Regions from separate parts of the Homo sapiens genome. Here regions 2, 3 and 4 are each linked to region 1. Evidence: fine-mapped expression QTL. A gene starts in region 1. Each other region holds a variant in brackets. All regions are shown on one strand. Distances are between the middles of the regions. Region 1 holds the start of PAPLN-AS1 (PAPLN antisense RNA 1). Region 2 overlaps RBM25 (RNA binding motif protein 25). Region 3 overlaps HEATR4 (HEAT repeat containing 4). Region 4 overlaps RBM25 (RNA binding motif protein 25).

Evidence for each region. PIP is the estimated chance that this variant, and not a neighbour inherited with it, causes the effect.
Region 2: its variant is the best candidate, but not a certain one, in a credible set for the expression of PAPLN-AS1 in esophagus muscle (GTEx, PIP 0.55).
Region 3: its variant is the best candidate, but not a certain one, in a credible set for the expression of PAPLN-AS1 in testis (GTEx, PIP 0.58).
Region 4: its variant is the best candidate, but not a certain one, in a credible set for the expression of PAPLN-AS1 in esophagus muscle (GTEx, PIP 0.80).

Annotation. Positions count from the first base shown.
Region 1 is chr14:73,244,975-73,247,565 of GRCh38, forward strand. It overlaps PAPLN-AS1 (PAPLN antisense RNA 1), which reads right to left and starts at 1,027. Exons shown (of 2, transcript NR_135248.1): 1 at 550-1,027; 2 at 1-270. PAPLN (papilin, proteoglycan like sulfated glycoprotein) reads left to right here. Exons shown (of 27, transcript NM_001365906.3): 4 at 662-722; 5 at 1,099-1,201. It also overlaps the pseudogene RNU6-419P. RefSeq lists a silencer at 862-1,131 and enhancers at 2,079-2,148, 2,287-2,591.
Region 2 is chr14:73,118,291-73,120,881 of GRCh38, forward strand. RBM25 (RNA binding motif protein 25) reads left to right here. Exons shown (of 19, transcript NM_021239.3): 19 at 1,423-2,591. The coding sequence ends at 1,515. Among named protein-coding and RNA genes, the nearest start is that of PSEN1, 17 kb to the right of the region's middle. The variant G/A (reference allele first, on the strand shown) is at 1,142.
Region 3 is chr14:73,496,184-73,498,774 of GRCh38, forward strand. HEATR4 (HEAT repeat containing 4) reads right to left here. Exons shown (of 18, transcript NM_001220484.1): 14 at 1,972-2,161; 15 at 418-496. It also overlaps a transcript of ACOT1 not described here. Among named protein-coding and RNA genes, the nearest start is that of RIOX1, 6.5 kb to the left of the region's middle. The variant G/A (reference allele first, on the strand shown) is at 1,177.
Region 4 is chr14:73,123,704-73,126,294 of GRCh38, forward strand. It overlaps RBM25 (RNA binding motif protein 25), which reads left to right. Exons shown (of 19, transcript NM_021239.3): 19 at 1-196. Among named protein-coding and RNA genes, the nearest start is that of PSEN1, 12 kb to the right of the region's middle. RefSeq lists an enhancer at 1,450-1,989. The variant G/C (reference allele first, on the strand shown) is at 1,551.

The DNA.
Region 1 (2,591 bases):
TGTTGCCCCTGGTCTCCAGCTCCTGATGCTGCACCGGCCTGCAGTATGGCAGGTGCAGTCAATTTTGCTGGAACTGGTAAATAATCTTCAACCGGCAGTTCCCAATTCCTGTGGTTTCTTTACCGAGTACAGATGTTCCCCACTTCAAGCGATTTATTAAATGCTTGCTGTGTGTGCTGCACTCCGGCAGGGTCAGTGGAGAAGGTGGGGCACAGAAGGAGTAGTGAGGTGCCTCTGTCCCGGTTTGTATAGGGGTTGTTCCTGAGAACCCTATGTGAGGAGGAATGAGAGACCAGGAATGATCCTAAGAGCCTTATACTGATGTCCTGCTTAGATCGCAGGATGGCTGTGCCAAGCGGGTGGGTATTATATCTCATGCACCTCGGGTCTTCTCTGGGAATCTGCCTAAGATGCAGTGGAGTGGTCCCGCCTTAAATCCAAACTATAGGGTGGGTAGGGCTCTGAGTCCCGCTTCTCTGGAGTACCAACATGGGTCGCTCACTCCCACCTGGGGGATTTACGGGGTGGGGTCGGGGGACACCCTCTCACCTTGCTGCTCCCACTGGAGAGTCCCGCAGAAGTTGGGGCCTGCAGAGAGCCCCAGAACGGGGGCAGGGACGTTGGGTCTCGGTCAGGTCTTCCCGGTGCTCTGGTCCCGCAGGAGAGATGGAGGCTCCAGCTGCGTGGGCCCCGCCCGGAGCCACCGCTCTTGTCGCACGGAGGTAAAGCTCACGGGGCGCGGGCGAAGGCACCAGCTTCCCCAGCCCCTCCTGGCCGATTTCCCCATTGGGATGCCCGCTCCTGGCCGCGGGCTGCTGGGTTGGCCCAGCCTGGGGTCCTCCCGCCAATCCACAGCAGGGCTGCGTGGGGGCCCCTTCCTCACCCTGCTCCCGGGGACTGGCCTTGCCCTCCACAGCCTAGAGCACCATGGAGGGGCACGCACAGGAGTTCGGGGGTCCGGGGGGCGGACTCCACCTCCGGCGGCTCCGATGGGGCAGGCAAGGGAGACTCCTGGGCTCCCTGGGCTCGGGCGGGGCGGGAGGTGGGCGGACCTCGGACTCCGCCCTCCTGGATCCCGACTTCCCCTCCGCCCCGCAGAGCTGCCCCGACGGCGCCCGGGACTTCCGGGCCGAGCAGTGCGCGGAGTTCGACGGAGCGGAGTTCCAGGGGCGGCGGTATCGGTGGCTGCCCTACTACAGCGGTGAGCGCGGCCGGGACTCGCTCTCTCGGGGCCTCTTGTATACCTACGTTGATGCCACAGTTCCTATTGCCGTATTATAGAGGCGTTGTCATATATATATATATTAGAGACAGTCTCACTGTGTTGCCCAGGCTGGTCTTGAACTCCTGGGCTCAAGGGATCCGCCGGCAGCGACCTCCCAGAGTGCTGGGATTGCAGGCGTGAGCCACTGTACCCGACCAATTTTTTTTTTTTTTTTTTTTTTTTTTTTTGGGTGGGCGCGGGGGCTCGCAATGTACAGGAAATCTTGTAGACCACAGGACCCACCTTTGGGGAGGAGAGGGTCTGCAGAGGTCCCTCGAGAGAGAGCAAGAGGTCTCTCTTTTTCTTTATCTTTTTTTCTTTTCTTTCTCTCTCGTTCTCTCTCGCTTGCTCTTTTTTCTCTCTTCCTTTCCTTTCCTTTTTTTCTTTTCCTTTTTCTTTCTTTCTTTTTTTTTTTTTTTTGAGACAGGATCTTGCCCAGGCTTGAGTGCAGCAGTGTCATGTCAGCTGGGCAGCATGTACCTCCCAAGCTCAATCAATCCTTCCACCTCAGCCTCCCAAATAATTTTTAAAGTAAATATGGAATGCTTCATGAATTTGCATGCCATACCAGCTAAGGGGGCAGGGGCTGTGCTAATCTCTGTATCGTTCCAATTTTAGTATATGTGCTGCCAGAGCCAGCATTTGTCAAATACCCCATCGATCAACCCATAATGAATCAATCACCAGTACCCCTGCTCCCCCCAGCACATGCCCGTGGCAACACCATGGCAGCCATTTTGAGGTCTTTCCATCCTTTCTCCCCTTATGTATGTATATTTTCAAACGAAGCTATGGTGTGTCTATACCATTTTGAGCCCTGTTTTTGCTCAGTCTGCTATGGGAAGCGTTCCTCCCGTCGCACAGAGACGGAGATGGGGAACCCCGGGAGCGGTAGCAATGGTGCCCCACGGTCATCCTGCAGGAGGGGCTGGAAGGGGCTTGGTACACCAAGACTTCATTTATCAAGGATCTGGGGGCCAGAGGAGATGGTCTGTGCACCTCTGAGGAGGGTATAAGTCATTAATTTTTAGAGAAATACAGTTCAGGGAAAAAACACCCAGGTAAGCACCAACATGTATGTCATTAAGCATTTTAGATGAATCAGAAGATTCCTCAAGACAAGTCTTCTGAGTGTTCGTTTTCCCTGCTTGCGGCAAATGACCTCTGGAGACCCTGTGGCACTCTAGATTCCAGATCAAGGAGCACTTATATTCTCTCTGTGTGTGTGTGGTGGGGATCGTGGCTGTGGGCATGGCCCAGTGGGAGTCTCATATCCTGTGTATGTGTGTGTGTGTGTTGTGGGGATCGTGGCTGTGGGCATGGCGCA
Region 2 (2,591 bases), 130 kb before region 1:
CATAGTGAGACCCTGTCTCTACTAAAAAGCACAAAAATGTAGCCAGGAGTAGTGGTGCACACCTGTAGTCCTAGCTACTGGTGAGGCTGATGTGGGAGTATCACTTGAGCCTGGGAGGTCAAGGCTGTAGTGCACCATGATCATGCCACTGTACTCCAGGCTGGGTGACAAGAGAGATCCTGTCTCCAGAAAAAAAAAAAAAAAGTTTGTGAGGTTGTGTTTTTGGAGATAAATGAAATTCTGTATTGTTATTATGTAATTGTATATTATTTAGTTCTTCTTAAATTACTGTGTTCTTTATGAAAAGCGTATGGTTTCCTTGGGAAGTAGTTTTGTCAGACATGTATAATTGCAGTATCTGTAAAGGTAAAATAAAAGAATAAAAGGTGGATCACAAAAATATGGTACTCTTTGTGTTTAGTAAGCCATGGAATTTTGAATGATTTTTTTTTGTTGTCGTTGTTAATTTACATTTACTATTTATTTATTTATTTAGAGACGGAGTTTTGCTCTTGTTGACCAGGCTGGAGTGCAGTGGCATGATCTTGGCTCACTGCAACCTCCGCCTCCCAGGTTCAAGCGATTCTCCTACCTCAGCCTCCCGAGTAGCTGGGATTACAGGTGCCGGCCACCATGCCCAGCTAATTTTTGTATTTTTAGTAGAGATGGGGTTTCGTCATGTTGGCCAGGCTGGTCTTGAACTCTTGACCTCTGGTGATCCACCTGCCTCAGCCTCCCAAAGTGCTGGGATTATAGGTGTGAGCCACTGTGCCCGGTCCATTTACTATTTATTAATAATACATTTCTCACACTGGACAAATTTTCTTTAAGTCATTTTACTGAAAGCAAAACTACTTCCTAAGGAAAACAAATACGTATTATAAAGAACGTAGTAATTTAAGAAGAACTAAATATACAACTATGTAATAACAATACAGAATCTCATGTATCCCCTCAAAACAACCTTAAAACTTTTTTGTTTTTTTTGTTTTTCTTTTTTGAGATGGAGTCTTGCTCTGTTGCTCAGGCTGGAGTGCAGTGGCGCGATCTTGGCAAGCTCCGCCTCCTGGGTTCACGTCATTCTCCTGCCTCAGCCTCCCCAGCAGCTGGGAATACAGGCGCACGCTGCCATGCCCAGCTA[G/A]TTTTTTGTATTTTTAGTAGAGATGGGGTTTCACCATGTTAGTCAGGATGGTCTTGATCTCCTGACCTTGTGATCCGCTCGCTTCGGCCTCCCAAAATGCTGGGATTACAGGCGTGAGCCACCACACCCGGCCACTAAAACAACCTTAAAATCTTAACTAGCATTTAAGTAATAAGTGCTTATTGTCAGTGGATGAAAAACTTTTTTATACTGGCCACTGTTTTTGGCAGATGTTGATGATTGCTTCTCTTACATGTGTTGCTGTTTTGTTTCCTCTTTAGGTACTTGATGAAGAAGCAGAAGTTTTTATAGTCAAAATGTGGAGATTATTGATATATGAAACAGAAGCCAAGAAAATTGGTCTTGTGAAGTAAAACTTTTTATATTTAGAGTTCCATTTCAGATTTCTTCTTTGCCACCCTTTTAAGGACTTTGAATTTTTCTTTGTCTTTGAAGACATTGTGAGATCTGTAATTTTTTTTTTTTGTAGAAAATGTGAATTTTTTGGTCCTCTAATTTGTTGTTGCCCTGTGTACTCCCTTGGTTGTAAAGTCATCTGAATCCTTGGTTCTCTTTATACTCACCAGGTACAAATTACTGGTATGTTTTATAAGCCGCAGCTACTGTACACAGCCTATCTGATATAATCTTGTTCTGCTGATTTGTTTCTTGTAAATATTAAAACGACTCCCCAATTATTTTGCAGAATTGCACTTAATATTGAAATGTACTGTATAGGAACCAACATGAACAATTTTAATTGAAAACACCAGTCATAAACTATTACCACCCCCACTCTCTTTTGATCAGAAATGGCAAGCCCTTGTGAAGGCATGGAGTTTAAAATTGGAATGCAAAAATTAGCAGACAATCCATTCCTACTGTATTTCTGTATGAATGTGTTTGTGAATGTATGTGTAAAAGTCTTTCTTTTCCCTAATTTGCTTTGGTGGGGTCCTTAAAACATTTCCCAACTAAAGAATAGAATTGTAAAGGAAAAGTGGTACTGTTCCAACCTGAAATGTCTGTTATAATTAGGTTATTAGTTTCCCAGAGCATGGTGTTCTCGTGTCGTGAGCAATGTGGTTTGCTAACTGGATGGGGTTTTCTTATTAATAAGATGGCTGCTTCAGCTTCTCTTTTAAAGGAATGTGGATCATAGTGATTTTTCCTTTTAATTTTATTGCTCAGAAATGAGGCATATCCTAAAAATCCTGGAGAGCTGTATTTAATGCATTTTTGCACTAATTGGTCCTTAGTTTAATTCTATTGTATCTGTTTATTTAACAAAAAATTCATCATACCAAAAAGTGTAAGTGAAAACCCCCTTTAAAACAAAACAAAAAAATGAAATAAAATTAGGCAAATTGACAGACAGTGAGAGTTTTACAAACATGATAGGTATTCTGCTCGGCAATTTGTAAGTTTACATGTTATTTAAGGATAAAGG
Region 3 (2,591 bases), 250 kb after region 1:
GGTGAGAAAACCCAGATTAGGAATTCAGAAAAATTAAGAAGAAAATCTAGGGGGCCAGCTCTAGTCCCTTATTCCTTCTCTATGCCTATTTGAAAAAAAGGAAAAATAAACAACTTGGGTTTGGGGTTGATGGGGAGAAAATAGGAAGGGAGGGAAATAGTATTTCTGAAACAATGAGGGTTACTTGATAGGACTAATAGGATTTTTGTTTTGTTTTTGTCTTTACTAGTAGGACCTTGTAACCCAATCTTGCACAGATGCTTTGCATCTTCAAATGATGTGGCATCTGTGTCTGGGGTTTTAGAAAGTACTTCTATGGTGGGAAAAAGGGTATGTACATGTTTGAGGAGGACAGGGTCTGAGGAACTCTTGAGAGTCCTGAATTTTCTCTTGAGAACAGAGCTTGCACTTATTTACCCTGTTCTTGATCTCCTGAAGCATTTCTTGGTTTCCTTCATTTCCTAAGTTGAGTATCTTCATTGTCTGGTACATTTCTCTGAAAGATAAGAAGGGCTTCTTAGATTATTCTACCCTGCCCTTTAAAAAAGTATGGGGGTAGAAAATATAGGACTTGGAATCAGGTAAGAATCCCAAGTTCCAATCCTAACTGTGCAGTTTTGCTGAGCCTTATATGCAAAAATGGTATAATGCTTAGCTTACAGGAATAATGTGCAGTTTTTGAGACAATATATTTGTGGGTTTTTTGTTTACTTTTTGTTTTTGCGAGATGGAGTCTTGCTCTGTTTCCCAGAGCTGGAGTGCAATGGCACGATCTCGTCTCGGCTCACTGCAACCTCCACCTCCCAGGTTCAAGCGATTCTCCTGCCTCAGCCTCCTGAGTTGCTGGGACTACAGGCGCGTGCCATCATGCCCAGCTAGTTTTTGTATTTTTAGTAGAGATGGGGTTTCACCATGTTGGCCAGGCTGGTCTAGAACTCCTGACCTCAGGTGATCCACCCGCCTTGGCCTCCCAAAGTGTTGGGGCTACAGGTGTGAGCCACTGCACCCGGCCATGCCCGTCTAATTTTTGTATTTTTAGTAGAGACAGGTTTCACCATGTTGGCCAGGCTGGTCTAGAACTCCTGACCTCAGGTGATCCATCTGCCTCAGCCTCCCAAAGTGTTGGGATTACAGATGTGAGCCACCTCATCTGGCCAAGACAATATATTTGAAGGT[G/A]CCAATAGGTACCATTTACTGAACACCTTTATGACAGGCGCTAAACATGTCATCTCATTAATTATCACCACAACCCTATAATGTAGACTATCACCTGCATTTGATACATGAAAAAAATGGGCTCACAGAGTTTAAATACCTTACACGGGCTCACATAGCTATTGCATGCCAGAGCTGGAATTCAAACCCTGGTCTTTTTGACTCTAAAACTTGTTGTCCCAATAGGCATTTGATAAATGTTAGTTGAATATATGAATAACTTAAAACCCATCCTTTTTTTTTTTGAGACGGAGTTTTGCTCTTGTTGCCCAGGCTGGAGTGCAATGGCACCATCTCGGCTCACCGCAACCTCCACTTCCCAGGTTCAAGTGATTCTCCTGCCTCAGCCTCCCTAGTAGCTGGGATTACAGGCATGTGCCACCATGCCTGGCTAATTTTGTATTTTTAGTAGAGACAGGGTTTCTCCATTTTGGTCAGGCTGGTCTCAAACTCCCGACCTCAGGTGATCCTCCTGCCTCAGCCTCCCAAAGTGCTGGGATTACAGGCGTGAGTCATCACACCCGGCCAAAACCCATCCTGGTGGGGAGAAAAGATGCATGAACTACATAAGCTTGACTTTCAATCTAATTTAGGCCAGTTTTTCAGTTACCTACTTGGGTGAGTGGTGAATGTGCAGGTGAACCAGTGCTTTTACTGCCATTAGGTAGCCTGGAAAGGCAGGGACATATTCAATGAGCAAAGATGTGAGAGTTGGCAGTATAAGGTCATGGTGGGAGCCAGAGGTTTAGTGCTTACTTTAGAACAGCATCGTGGTTCTCCAGGAGCAGCACGTCTAGGAAGGTGTCCCTGACCCGGTCCCCTTGAAGTTTCAGGGCTAGGATGCTACGGCAAGCTTCCAGCCGTACACCTGGTGACTCTTCATAGTGGATAGCCCAGAGCAGAAGATCCGTCAGCTCGGGACTTACTTGCCCAATCTGTCCCAAAGCTGCAGAGATTAGAGGGCAGCATGTCACTGAAGACTGAGCTTACTATATTCTAGCATCCAGAAATAAATTGAGTTTTGCAAACAATACCTTCCCTTTTGGATGGTAATCACCATTAGAATTTTAGGGATAGGTCAGAATGGGACATTACCTCCAAAGGATTCCTAGAAGAGGGATGTTCCATCCCATCCTTGCCTGTTAGGATATTTGCCTATTTTGGGATGAAATATAGAACAAATAACATGGAAGACCTGCCTAGTCCCAGCAGGGTGATGGGGAAAGGAGGCACAATTATTTATCTATGTCAAAAAGAGAAGCAATGCCAAAGATTCTAAAAAGAAACTAGGCAGATTAAGGGGCAGGGTTTTAGGTCTGTAGCAGTCTTGAAACTGATCTGACTTTTGCAGAGCGTAATAGTTGAGATCTCCAAGG
Region 4 (2,591 bases), 120 kb before region 1:
AATACTGAAATATTTATGTTAATTTATTTGCATTTGAATGCTTACATTTTTAATTGACAGAATCTTTGCATTTCATTACTTGAGTCATGAAGGCGAAATTAAAGAATGGCAGTCTAAAATACCCAGGTAAAGAAGATAATTTCTAGAAACAAAAATAAAAATTCTTTTCAAGCCATGTTGTTTGAATTAAATGACACTCCTGAGTCTGTCTACTTTTTTTTTTTTTTTTGAGACAGCATCTTGAACCCAGGAGGTGGAGGTTGCAGAGAGCCGAGATTGCGCCACTGCACTCCAGCGTGAGCAACAAGAGCAAAACTCCATCTCAAAAAAATACATGTATTTCTGTTAGCTGATCATCTAATGGTGGCAAAAAAAATTACACGAGTTCAGGAACATCATTAGACATAAATACAAAATACTATGTGAATTATCAAATGTGATAAGCTGAGAGGAAATGGGAAATAGGAAGATTCTCAGTAGAAGTAGTAATATGTGGAAGGGGCTTTAGAGGTCACCTAGTCTGTTTTGCCCATTGTAATTATGTCAGTAGTCCCTGCAGGTGGTTTATCTAGAGGAGTATATATGGGGTTCTAATTCATGGTCTAGCATTGCACTATTAAATAACCACTAATGACAAGTAGTTTTACATGCATTCACGTGAAATCTTTCTGTTTGTTTGTTTGAGATAGGGTCTGCCTCTGTCACCCACGCTGGAGTGCAGTGGCAAGATCTTGGCTCACTGCAACTTCTGCCTCCTGGGCTCAAGTGATCCTCCCACCTCAGCCTCCCAAGTACTTGGGACCACAGGTGCACACCAACACACCCAGCTAATTTTTGTAGAGGAAGGGTTTCACCATGTTTCCCTGGTGGGCTTTGAACACCTGAGCTCAAACGATGCCTTGACCTCTCAAAGTGCTGGGATTACAAGTGTCAGCCACTGCACCTGGCCGACATTTTTTATTTGTTTAGAGACAAGGATTCCCTGTAAAGCTGCAGGGGCACAATCGTGGCTCTCACTGCAGCCTCGAATTCCTGGGCTCAGTGATCCTCTTGTCCCAGCCACCTGAGTAGCTAGGACTACAGGTGCACCCCACCATGCCTCCTATTTTTTGTGTTTGTGTGGAGATGAAGTGTGTTGTCTAGGCTGGTCTCAAGTGATCCTTCAGCCTCAGCCTCCTAAACTGCTGAGATTACAGGCATAAGCTTTTTTGATAAAGGAAAAACTAGTGAGCATTTCACATTGTAGAATCCAAAAACATGAAAGTTAATCTTTTCCTGTCAATTTACAGTTTTGTAAATGTACCCAGGTGAAGAGACTGGTCTGTTACTGTAGATAGAAAAGTACCAAAACAAAGTTTTACTTTGTTCAGTATACTGTCGAGGCAACTTTCTAAATGAGAGGGTCCAGGTTCTTGGTTAAAGAAGGAACTTAGAATTAACAAAATAGTGACAAACATTTGCGGCAGCGCGCCTCAGGGCACCAGCTGCAGGGGTCTGCCCACAGACCCTGACCCTGCGACAGATGAATAAAGTACACTGACACACAGATA[G/C]TCTGTTTTGCCAGTCCAGCTGAGGGTGTCCCACTGCTTACAGACTCCCTGGAGAGTTCTGAAAACAGTTGCAACTAGGCCTCAGTCAGCTAGTGAGACTTGCATTTATTCAAAAAGATTAAGGATGGCTTGAGTCAACACCATTAGAGGGTAATTGATATTGTGGACTTCCCAAGTAAAAAGCACTTAACCCCCCGTGGTACATCCAAGATTAGTCTTAAGATCATATGACTAAACAAACTAGGTAAACTACTCTGCCTTCCTTTATTACTACTTTAATTTGTTTAAAAGTAAAGATCAGGTTGCCTTCAACCATATCTATCACCGAAGCTATGCAAACTTCTCGGCCTTCCAAGAATTGTATCTGTCTCTGTAACAATCTTTAATGTTTTTCCCACCAGCCTGATTGAATCCCAACACATATTCAGAACTTAAGGCTAGAACAAGATGAGGAAGATATGACAGCCCGTGATTTTAAGCAATCTAAGGAAACCCATGCTTGCAAAGAATTCAAATGACGTGAGAGCTACTAAGATAAAATGTGGCCATGCACCAAGCCTTGACGGCAATATTTAATCTCATAACAATTCTTCTTTCCTCCTATATAAGAAGCATGGCAGCGACACTGTGCATAAATTAAGGCAAACTGTTGTTATGTGAAAATGTTAATGAGGTAGATTCCTTTGGAATCATTAGTGTGAAGAGCTGGTTTTTGTTTTCCCATTGCCTAGGCCCTGACTTTAGTAGTGACTGATGCAGCTTTTCTAGTCTAACAACCCTCTCCCCCAAGTAATTCTTTGATGCCCTGCCCTTCAGCTTCATCTTTTACCACTTACTATTGGGTTTTGCCACCATTTATTTTATCATTCACTTATCTGTTCCTCTTCCTAAGTTACAAACGTTTCTGAAGCAAAAGAAAATGTATCACTGTAGAGAGTCTAGGACCTTTAGTGTTATTTGGTCGTTTACTTTTCATACACTGCAGCTTTTACTGTTTTGAACCTTCATTGCTATAGTAGGTATTGAAAAATACTGAACGAC